2 separate regions of the Homo sapiens genome follow, and region 2 is linked to region 1. The links come from fine-mapping of genetic effects on gene expression. A gene starts in region 1. The other region holds a variant in brackets. All regions are shown on one strand. Distances are from middle to middle.

Region 1 (5,378 bases):
TAGGTTCTTTGGTGTTCCCTGAACATAAGAAACGTAATTCTGCCTCAGGGACTTTGCACTTGTTCTTTGGCTTATCCATTCTCCAGATAGCCACATGACTTGTTTGCTCATATTCTTTTTTTTTTTTTTTTTTTTTTTTTTTTTGAGATGCACTCTCACTCTGTCTCCCAGGCTGGAGTGCAGTGGCGCAATCTCGGCTCACTGCAAGCTCTGCCTCCCGGGTTCAAACCATTCTCCTGCCTCAGCCTCCCAAGTAGCTGGGATTACAGGCGACCATCACCACGCCCAGCTAAGTTTTTGTAATTTTAGTAGAGATGGGGTTTCACGGTGTTAGCCATGATGGTCTCAGTCTCCTGACCTCATGATCCACCCGCCTCCGCCTCCCAAAGTGCTGGGATTACAGGCGTGAGCCACCACGCCCGGCCTCATATTCTTTATCTGCTCAGATGTCACCTTATTAGACGAGCCTTCTCTGACCATCCTATATATAAAACCGTAAACTTGGCTAGGTGCTGGCCGGGCGCAGTGGCTCACACCTGTAATCCCAGCACTTTGGGAGGCCAAGGCAGTTGGATCACGAGGTCAGGAGTTCGAGACCAGCCTGGCCAATGCGGTGAAACCCCATCTCTACTAAAAATAGAAAAATTAGCTAGGTGTAGTGGCACGTGCCTGTAGTCCCAGCTGCTCAGGAGGCTGAGGCAGGAGAATCGCTTGAAGCCGGGAGGCACAGGTTGCAGTGAGCCAAGATCATGCCACTGCACTCCAGCCTGGGCAACAGAGCAAGACTCTGTCTCAAAAAAAAAAAAAGTAAACTATCCCCCATTGACATTGACACTCCATCTCCTCTTCGTCTCCTTTAGTATTCTCCATAGCATTTATGTGACAAGCTATGTATTTACCTGTTTATATTTCTTTTCTTTCTTCTCCTACTAGTATGTAAGTTCTGTGAGAGCAAGGTCTTTGTTTTGTTTACTGCTATTGTTTCTGGTACCTGGAACATGACCTGGCACATAATATGAAGTAAATATTTGATGAATGAAATGTAGGTTAGCACAAAATTGTAGATGATCCTATTGCCAGATTTAAAAGTTCCCATTGTATTAGTGGTCCCGTCAAGGCCCCTTTATTATTTTTCTGGGTAGTAGGTTATGCACATCTAAAACTCTTTCCTTTTGCTTCAACAAGCTCTAGAAAAAAGCAAAAGGAAAATAAATAAATAAATAAAGATTTCACATAGAAAAAAAAGTAAAACCCTTCCCTATTATTAGAAAAAAATAAACTTGACAGATATATAAAGCAATTTTCATTTTTTAAAGCTTGTGAGACTATAGCATCTTCATCTATATCATAGTGTAATAGGTACTTTAGAAGTAAGTAAACAGGGTCTCACTTTGTCTCAAATAAAAAGGCTGTAGTGCAGTGGCATGATCATGGCTTGCTGCAGCCTTGATTCCTGGGCTCAAGCCATCTTCCCACCTCAGCCTCCCCAGTAGCTGGGACTATACACACATACCATCTCATCTGGCTAAATTTTAAAATTTTTTTGTAGAAATGGGGTCCCACTGTGTTACTCAGTCTGGTCCTGAACTCCTGGGCTCAAGTGATCCTCCTGCCTCAGCCTCCTGAAGTGCAGGGATTACAAGCATGAGCCACTGCATCTGGCCTGATTTAGTGAGTTTGGACAAATGTATACAGTCATGGAACCACCACCACAATCAACAAAAGGAACATTTCCATCCTCTTACAGTTATTTTGTGATCCTTTTAGTCAATTTCCTTCCCTCATTCTCAGCCTCTTCCATTTCTAGTTGTATAGTTTTGCTTTTCTAGAAAGTTATATAAATGGAATCATATGGTATGTAGCCTTTTGTGTTTGGCTTTTTTTATGTAGCATAATAGTTTTGAGAATCATCTGTGTCGTCGTATGTATCAGTAGTTTTATTCTATTTTATTGCAGAATAGGTAGTCCATTATATGGATGCACAATTTGTTTATACATTTACCAGTTGATGGACATTTGGGTTGTTTCCAGTTTTTTATATTATGAATAATGCTGCTGCAAACATTCATATACAGGTCTTTGTGTGGATATACGTTTCTCTTTTTCTTGGATAGATACCTAGGAGTGAGATTGCTGGGTCCTCTGGTCTAAGGCCGGGCACAGTGGCACATGCCTGTAATCCCAGCACCTTTGGAGGCAGAGGCGGGAGGATTGCTTGAGGTCAGGAGTTCGAGACCAGCTTGGCCAACATGGTGAAACCCCATCTCTACTAAAAATATAAAAATTAGCTGGGTGCGGTGGCATCCACCTGTAATCCCAGCTACTCAGGAGGCTGAGGCAGGAGAATTGCTTCAACCCTAGAGGCGGAGGTTGCAGTGAACTGATATCGTGCCTTCCAAAGTGCTGGGATTACAGCCATGAACCACTGCGCCCAGCCAGACGGATTTTTTTAACCCTTGAGAAGTACCCCCTAAATGAGCAGTTTGCTCTCCTCGCTGATCTTCATCACACCTAGATGTCAGGTCTGCTTCATGGGAGCTTGCTCTGTATGTATCCTCCCTGGACTGATGTTCAGGCTCCTTGCTTCTCCTCCCGGGTTGTGGGTATGGAGGGTTTGCCCTCTGACAACTCCAGGGTACTTGTGGTGCTCATACATCCTCATGTACTTTGCTTTCTCCCCGCAAGAGGTTCCCTAATGCTTCTGTGACTTTTTTCTTCTGGCTACATCCTGAAGTCTGGCCTTGCAGGCAGGCTGGGAATGGAAAGTTAAGAGTGTGACGTCCTCTGACACCCTCCCTTCTTGTAGAAGGGTCTGAGGTTTGTTTATTTAAGCTGAGCAGAGGATGCCAAAGATAGAGGTTTGAGTCAGCTTGACACTGGCTTAGGCGCTCCTTTTCACTCTCCTTGTTCCTTCTTCCCTTTCCCCTCCCCCGCTGGCCAGTTGTTTCCTGGGCTTTGTCTGAGATACACTGTACAGTTTTAGTCCCAGTCTACTAGCGCCTGCTGAAAAACAGTCAGAAGTGAGATGGAGGAGAAGCTGCCAGGAAGTTTCTGACAACACTAAGCTCCGGCCTCTGCCTCTGCTGATAGTACAGGACAACAGTAACCTCAGGAGAAAGGCATCCAGAGGCCTGCGCTGAGCTTGTGGCTAACTCAAGGGAGGAGAAAGGACGGGCCTGGAAATGCCCCTCTTAGATTCATCTTATTTACCACCAACCATCTTTATTTTGACTCACGTTCTTGGAGTTGCTGGTGTTCTATACTGGAAGAGGCATGCCAGAGGTAGAGCAGGTAACTAACTGGTACCCAGTTATTCTTTAAATCTACTGTGGGGCTTTTGAGGGTGGGGTGAATGATGGAGGTCTTCCCAGTTGCTTTCCTTAAAGGGCCAGTACGTCCTTCAGCTGGGGTGCTGTCAGACTTAAGAGTGTGTGTGTGTGAGTATAATGAAGAAGCTGGTCTGCCCTGGGGCCACTTTGGGATGGGGGTGGTGCTCTTTTCTGTTCTGTGAGTCTGTCTGGAGAGTGCTGGTTAGATGAGGTGATGACTGGGCTCAAAACTGAAGGGAAGTGGCTGCTGTGCTGACTTAGTCTTTCCTCAGAGAACTGAGCTCTTTCTTTCTCAATCTCAGAGTGGTTTCTTGGAACCTTGTTTTTAACTGAAAACATACAGTAACTCTTTTACCCTCCTCCAGGTATAGATTTGGGTTGGAGAAGTTTCTGTTAACTTGGTGTGTTTTGGGGTGAGAAAAGGCAGAGGAGGAAGGGTCAGTCAGTGGAAGGGGTCGTGCGATGTCCTTGCCGAGGGGCATCCTGGAACACTGGGTGTCTGTGTTCTCTTTGATATCATTGATACTGTTCCTACACAGTTTGGCTATGTGTATCCAAATCATCTTGTTCAATGCAAGGAAGTTAATCCCTCTCTTCCCTAGGGAATCAGGCTTTGATAATTAAAAAAAAAATTTTTTTTTGTAATGGCACCAGAACCCTCATTCTTCCCATATTGCTATTAGTTATATTCTGTTGACTTCTAAACACTCAGAGCAGGGATCAGCCCTGAGTTTGGCTGATTCTGAGTCTCCATGGTTGAGGATTCATATGGTCTAACTTTTACTGGAGTGTATACCCTTGGGTCTCATTGCCTTCAGTACTCTCATTGTGATGGGCTCACTACCTTCAAACTTAGGTATGTAGACACTTTTTATAGTGTATCTTACAAGTTAAGGTGGGGATTTGATGGCTTATTATTTAGCTTTCTATTAAAAGTTCACAAACGCCTGACAGAATTAGAATTAGATTCAATCATTCCCCAGTGTCCTTTCCAGTACGTCCCAGAAAAGCTTTTGACTAAATATTCAGATCCTAGTGTGCATCTATAGCAGCGGAAACAAAGACAGACATTTTAGAAGTGTGTTTGATTGTGTGGTGGTGTTTTTAAAAAAGCCACCTCAAAGTGGCTTTCCTGTATTTGAACTTAGAAAGAAAGAGATAGGCAGGCTTAAGTTGTTTGGTCCTATTTACTATTTCACATGTAATGAGAAAATAAATACAATATCATTTAGGTAGAGGCTGCTGCTTTTCTTTCCTTGTGCATTATGGTAATGTCATTTTTAAACATTAAATAACTAATTAGTTGTTAATATTTTTAAAGTTTATCTTCAGTATAGGACTTTAATGGAACTTAAGAGCTATCACTGTATTTTAAGTGCTTTCTTTTTTATGTTTAGAAATGTTAATTTCATAAACAGCCATAAAGTAATTGAAATAAAAAGATACATTGTAAAAGCTTTTTATTTCTATGAAACAACTTTGATTCTAATACCAAATAGTTATATCGGGAATGTGCTACGTTTGCTTTATCTGTAAAATGAGAGATGTCATTTTTCAATTGGAGGCTATGGATTCCAAATCTTCCATGGAGTTACTTACGAGATTCTGTACCCATTTTATTATAATTGCAATTTTAAGATGCATTTCATTTATTTAAAAATGTATTTTTAAAAATAATATGTACACTCTAATTACCTGCCAGTTGGACATCACAGAATAAAGTTTTTCCACCATCTCTGTGTATATATTTGTACTATTAATAAATGTACACTTGATTAAAAACACAAAGATCGCTTCTTCTGATGTAGTCTTTTTTTTTTTTTTAATTGGAGTTACATACAGTATTGCAGAACAAACTATAGCACATAGGTCTTGTGCCTAATAATAGTAATAATAATGATTCAGGCAGAGCTCAGTTGTATGAGCTCAGGTGTTAACTGAACTATTATAATAGTGAAGTGGGTAATTAATTCATCTCTATGTAGTAATACTGTATTACTGGTTTAGTATGTGTACCAGAAGTTTCTGTTCTTTTGTCTCACTTTTCTA
Region 2 (5,378 bases), 130 kb after region 1:
TCCCAAGTGGTACCTCAAGGAATTTCTGTAAAACATTTAGATGCTTTAACACTCTTCAGCTCTAAACAGGCCAATGAAGGAAAAGTAAACAATTTAAGTCTCTGCTTGACTTTAAAACCAGAAGAAAACTTATCTCGAGAAATTGCCTGTGGGGCCCAGAGTGAACCATTCCCTTGTATGACCCCAAGACCTGAAGGATTGCACTACCAGGAATCAGATGGAAAAGCCCAAGTGACAGGCCCATCCCAAATTTCCAAAACAGACAAGTCTTTCCAAGGAACCACCAGACAGGAGACCAACTATCAAGATTCCTGGGTTACTTCGAAAACTAAGGAAACCAAACATCAAATTTCCTCATCTAATGAATGTAAAGAAAAGTCATACCAAGAAGTATCTTTTGACCCAGCAAGAGGTCTTAAATTGGAAGAAATCACAGTTTCTAGACCAGATTCAAAAGAAGTCAGGTATCTAGAATTCTCAGACAGAAAAGACCTTCATCATCAGGGCAGCAAAAGTGATGATAAACTTTGTGGAACTCTCAAATCTGAAATAGCAACACAGGAACTAACTGGAGAGAAATTTCTAGAAATGGCAAACCCTAATGTTGCAGGTCTAGAAGCAGGATCCATTGAGGACATAGTGACTCAGAGAGGTTCCAGAGTCTTGGGATCCTTTCTTCCAGAGAAACTGTTCAAAGGAGTGTCTCAAAAAGAGAATACAGGGCAACAGAATGCCATCATTAGTCCTACTGTTCTAGAGACCAGTGAAGAAAAGACAGTGTCCCTAACAGTATGCTCTGCAGTGAAGACAGAGAAGACACCACAGGAAAAGCTCAGAGAAAGCCCTGGCAGTGAACAAACTCCCTTCATGACTGCACCTGAAGGAAAGGGAAATGGAGGTGTAAACCCAGAGCCCTTCAGAGCAACTCAGGTCAGTGGTGTGCTTTTTTTTTTTTCTTCCTAAAGATACAATTAGTTTAATGCTAAAATTCTTAACTGGGTACAGAGTTTACATATGTGTAATTGTATGCCTCTATACATTTTAAGGCACTAGATGATTCTCTAAGATATAACTTAGTTTATCATCATCTGTTTGTAGCAAAGTTGTTGGAAAATTAGGCATTGGCTCTGAATGTCTTTCTGAAATCTGCAAGGGTTTTAAATAGAAACGAGCTAATAGAAATACTAGGATGATGCTACCTGAAATCAGAATAGCTTTTGGAAATTTTGGTAAAATGATGCTTGTAGATTGATAGCTCTGAGCTTCTGCTCTCTGAGGAAATTGGTAAAATCACCTTTGTCTATTGATTTGAAATGACTTAAACAAAGTGTTTTATTTTATCCCACTCTATGTGCAGTAAAAATTGCTTCTATTTGTCTAACAAAAACCCCTGCCTGCTTTAAAGCTGACTTACAGGAGAACGTCAGAACTGAGTCAGCTTTCTTTTTGGCTCCACAGAATGTATTTACCCGGCAACTCTGTTTAGAACATGATGAAAAGCTAGTATCCTATCTGTCTCTGTTACGGAACATTGAAATGAGGACCAAACAGATTCAACCTTTGGAGCTAAACCTGGCAGAACTACAGGATCTGCTGTGTCAGGCCAAGGTAGGTTCCCAGAGACTTCCACCACAGACACCAGCTTCAAGATAGCTGCCTCCATCTTCCTTGAAGATTTCAAGACTTACTAGAACCTGCTTGCACTCTATTCTAGGGTAAACAATCTCAGACCCTTGTCAGATAATTATGGGATGGGCTACATTTGGATAGACCGGATAAAATTTATACAGGATAAACTTGAACAGACCTTGGATTTGGCTATCAATGTAATTACTACCATTTTTTTTTTTTTTTTTTTTTGAGATAGAGTCTTGCTCTGTCACCCAGGGTGGAGTGCAGTAGCGGTGATCTCGGCTCACTGCAACCTCCGCCTCCCGGGTTCAAGCAATTCCCCTGCCTCAGCCTCCCGAATAGCTGCGACTATAGGCACCTGCCGCCACGCCTGGCTAATTTTTCTTGTTTGTTTGTTTTTTGTGTTTTTTTGTGTGTGTGTGTTTTTTTTTTGAGATGGAGTCTCACTCTGTTGCCCAGGCTGGAGTGCAGTGGCGTGATCTCGGCTCACTGCAAGCTCTGCCTCCCGGGTTTCCGCCATTCTCCTGCCTCAGCCTCCCGAGTAGCTGGGACTACAGGCGCCTGCCGCCACGCCCAGCTAATTTTTTGTATATTTAGTAGAGACGGGGTTTCACCGTGTTAGCCAAGATGGTCTTGATCTCCTGACCTCGTGATCTGCCCTCCTCGGCCTCCCAAAGTGCTAGGATTACAGGTGTGAGCCACCACGCCCGGCCCTACCAATTGTTATCTGCGTGGTTTTGGATTGATTTAGGTAAGTTCAAAGGCAGAGTGATTGGTTAGGAAACTATTGCAGTAATTCAAGCAAGAAATGTTGGAGGCTTAAAACAGTAGATTAGATATGTAAGTTAATCTCTCTTACTTCCTAAAACTATACTAAGACATCAGGAAAAAGGTTTTTTGGGTT[GT/G]TTTTTTTTTTTAGTGCATAAATTCATAAAAGGGCAAGAGAGGAGAAAACAGCAGTAAAATTTTAGAAGTTAGAAAGCAGCTGGATGAGGCGATAACTACCTTAGCAAGCTAGAGTAAACCAGATCCTCAACTTAAAGTGGAGGAAGCTAAGGAACAACCTGATTTATACTACAGAACTCCCCAAAGCCTCAAAAATTGGGAGCACCAGAAAGAGATGAAAATGGATATGCAAACGGGCTTATAATTGGTTTAAAGTCTGTTTAAGAAGCAATTAGACCTTTAGATTTTCAACTTACTTCACATAGCCTGGCAACTGCTTGTGCTGTGCTCTAACGAAAGGCTGGATGTTCATTCTCTGAGGAAAGTAATTCAAAGTATCTCTTGACTAGGGAGAGCAGCCATTTATTGAAGGTAAATATTCCATACAGAAATCAGTAGGATTAACTGGAAGTTCACATACATACTGAATTTTGAGCTATATCCTTGCTCCCGCTATGGTTTGACCAGCCCAAGGGGGAAGACCTAATGGTACTGATATAAGTGGTTTCCCAACTGTATGGCCCAGCTCCATCACCCTCAGTGAAGACTACAGCCAGCAGAGTTTATAGTCAGCTTTTTAGGGCATTACACTCCACTTCAGCATCCAGAAAGCTTCTGATACAAAAGGAGAGGCTAAAACAAAGAAAAAGAAACTTGGACAAAATACAGACTATTTAGGAAAAAAAACATACTGAGGGCCAGTCACAGTGGCTCATGCCTATAATCCCAGCACTTTGGTAGGCCAAGACAAGAGGATTGCTTGAGCCCAGGAGTTTGAGATCATCCTGGGCAACACAGTAAGAAATTAGCCAAGCCTGGTGGTATACACCCTAGTCCCAGCCACTCAGGAAGCTGAGGCAGGAGGATTTGCCTGAGCCCAGGAGTTTGAGGTTGTATTGAGCTATGAATGCATCACTGCACTCCAGTCTGGGAGACGGAGTGAGACCCTGTCTTAAAAAAAAGAAAGAAAAATATATTCAAAAGCACTGCCATTTAAAGGACCAACAAAGAAACAACAACAACAAAAATAGATTGAAAAAGTCTAACTGGAGATCTCTGAAGAAGACCTGGAAACACTCGTCTCACAGAAACCAAAGGAGGAGGAGTCAGCCCTAGTAACTGCCACAGGGAGATTGAGTACAATGAGGACTGAAGGGGAGATTCAGCTCCTGAAAGTTATTGGTGACTTTGAACAGTTTCAGTGGAGTGACGGGATATAAACTAACTTGCAGCTGGAAGAAATGGGAGGTTGGAAAGTAGAGACAATTAATATAGATCCTTCTTTCCAGAAGTCTTAGGTACAGGCAAGGAATGAGGTGGGACACTACTTGAAGGAGATGGATTGAAAGGAATGTTTTGAATGGGTTTTGGACTGAGGAGAAAGAACCAATTAAAAGGGAGAACTTGAAGTTAGAAGAGAGAGGAAGTGATAACTGATAGAACCAGTCCCCTAAAAACGTAGAAAGACAGCCTTGAGAGGGAGGAAGAGTGGCTATTTCACTGAAATTGGAGGTTAAGAGTTGTCATAGGATTGGAGTCACCATGAAGACAGATTGTAGTGGTTTACTGGTTCTCTCAATATCTAGTGTGTGGCCTTGGGTAGGGTGGCTGAACCGGGGCTGAGGATGATGCCCCAAAGAACTATGTCAAGTTCTTCCACAGCTTATTTCCGGCTTATCTGTTGAGGACCAGAATATTACAGACTAGATGAGTGGAAAAGCTGGTTGGGGTTAGCTTTGTATTCTTTGGTTCCATGACCCTGGAATTTAGAGTGGAAGAGTCATCCGTTCGGTTTATTTTGTAGCACATTAATTCTGCACAGCTGCTCCTTGGGGAAAGGCATAATGACACTCTCAGAGAGGCAGCAAGTTACAGTGGAGGGAGCACACTGCACTGAGTGAGAAAACCTGAATCCAAGTCCTGGCTGTACTGCTTACCAGCTGGGTGACCTTGGACACCATTCACATTTTTTTTTTAAGCAATGAGGCATCTCTTCTGTAAATCCAGAACAGTAACATCTACCTTGCCTACTTCATGAATTAGTGATTGTGAGAACCAAGTAAACTAATGAATGTACATAAAAACATTTTCTAAGCCCTAAAGTGTGTGTAGACATGGGGTGAGAGAGAAATGTGTTCACAGCTGATTCCCAGAGGGTTTCTAGTCTTGCTTTTATAGGTAACTCCACTTTATTCCCTCAGGTATTAGAAAGGGAGTTAAAGGATCTGACCACCTTGGTCAGTCAGGAGCTGGAGTGTGTGAATCAGATTATCATCAGCCAGCCTCAAGAAGTTCCTGCTCAACTGTTGAAGGCTCTAGAGAAAGATGCCAAGAATCTTCAGAAGTCTCTCAGCTCTGTGAGTGACACTTGGAATTCCAGGCTACTCCACTTCCAGAATGCTGTGGAAATAGAAAAGGTAGCATTTTGCTTTTATTCATAAAGGCTCACAAAGTCTGGGTGGCTGGGAGATTTTCATAATGTGATTTTCCATTTATTTCTTAGACTAAAGTGTTAAATCAGCACACACAGCTAGAAGGCCGACTTCAAGATCTGAGAGCCTGGGTTGGCAATAAAAATCTTATTCTGAACAGCAAGGGATCTAACAGTGAAATAGATGTTGACAGCCTGAACCTCTGCCTCCAACAGTATGAGGTAAACTCAAGCACATTTTCTTTGTCCTTTGAGTTGTATCAATTTTATTTCCCTGCTAGGCAAACCAATATCCATATTTATCTTTTTTTTTTTTTTTTGAGACGGAGTCTTGCTCTGTCACCCAAGCTGGAGTGCAGTGGCACAATCC

The links. PIP is the estimated chance that this variant, and not a neighbour inherited with it, causes the effect.
Region 2: its variant is fine-mapped to the expression of MACF1 in whole blood (TOPMed, PIP above 0.99).

What each region holds. Positions count from the first base shown.
Region 1 is chr1:39,201,841-39,207,218 of GRCh38, forward strand. It overlaps MACF1 (microtubule actin crosslinking factor 1), which reads left to right and starts at 2,855. Exons shown (of 101, transcript NM_001394062.1): 1 at 2,855-3,291. The coding sequence starts at 3,183. RefSeq lists an enhancer at 3,041-3,220.
Region 2 is chr1:39,335,724-39,341,101 of GRCh38, forward strand. MACF1 (microtubule actin crosslinking factor 1) reads left to right here. Exons shown (of 101, transcript NM_001394062.1): 37 at 1-930; 38 at 1,459-1,608; 39 at 4,779-4,994; 40 at 5,081-5,230. Among named protein-coding and RNA genes, the nearest start is that of MACF1, 130 kb to the left of the region's middle. The variant GT/G (reference allele first, on the strand shown) is at 2,537.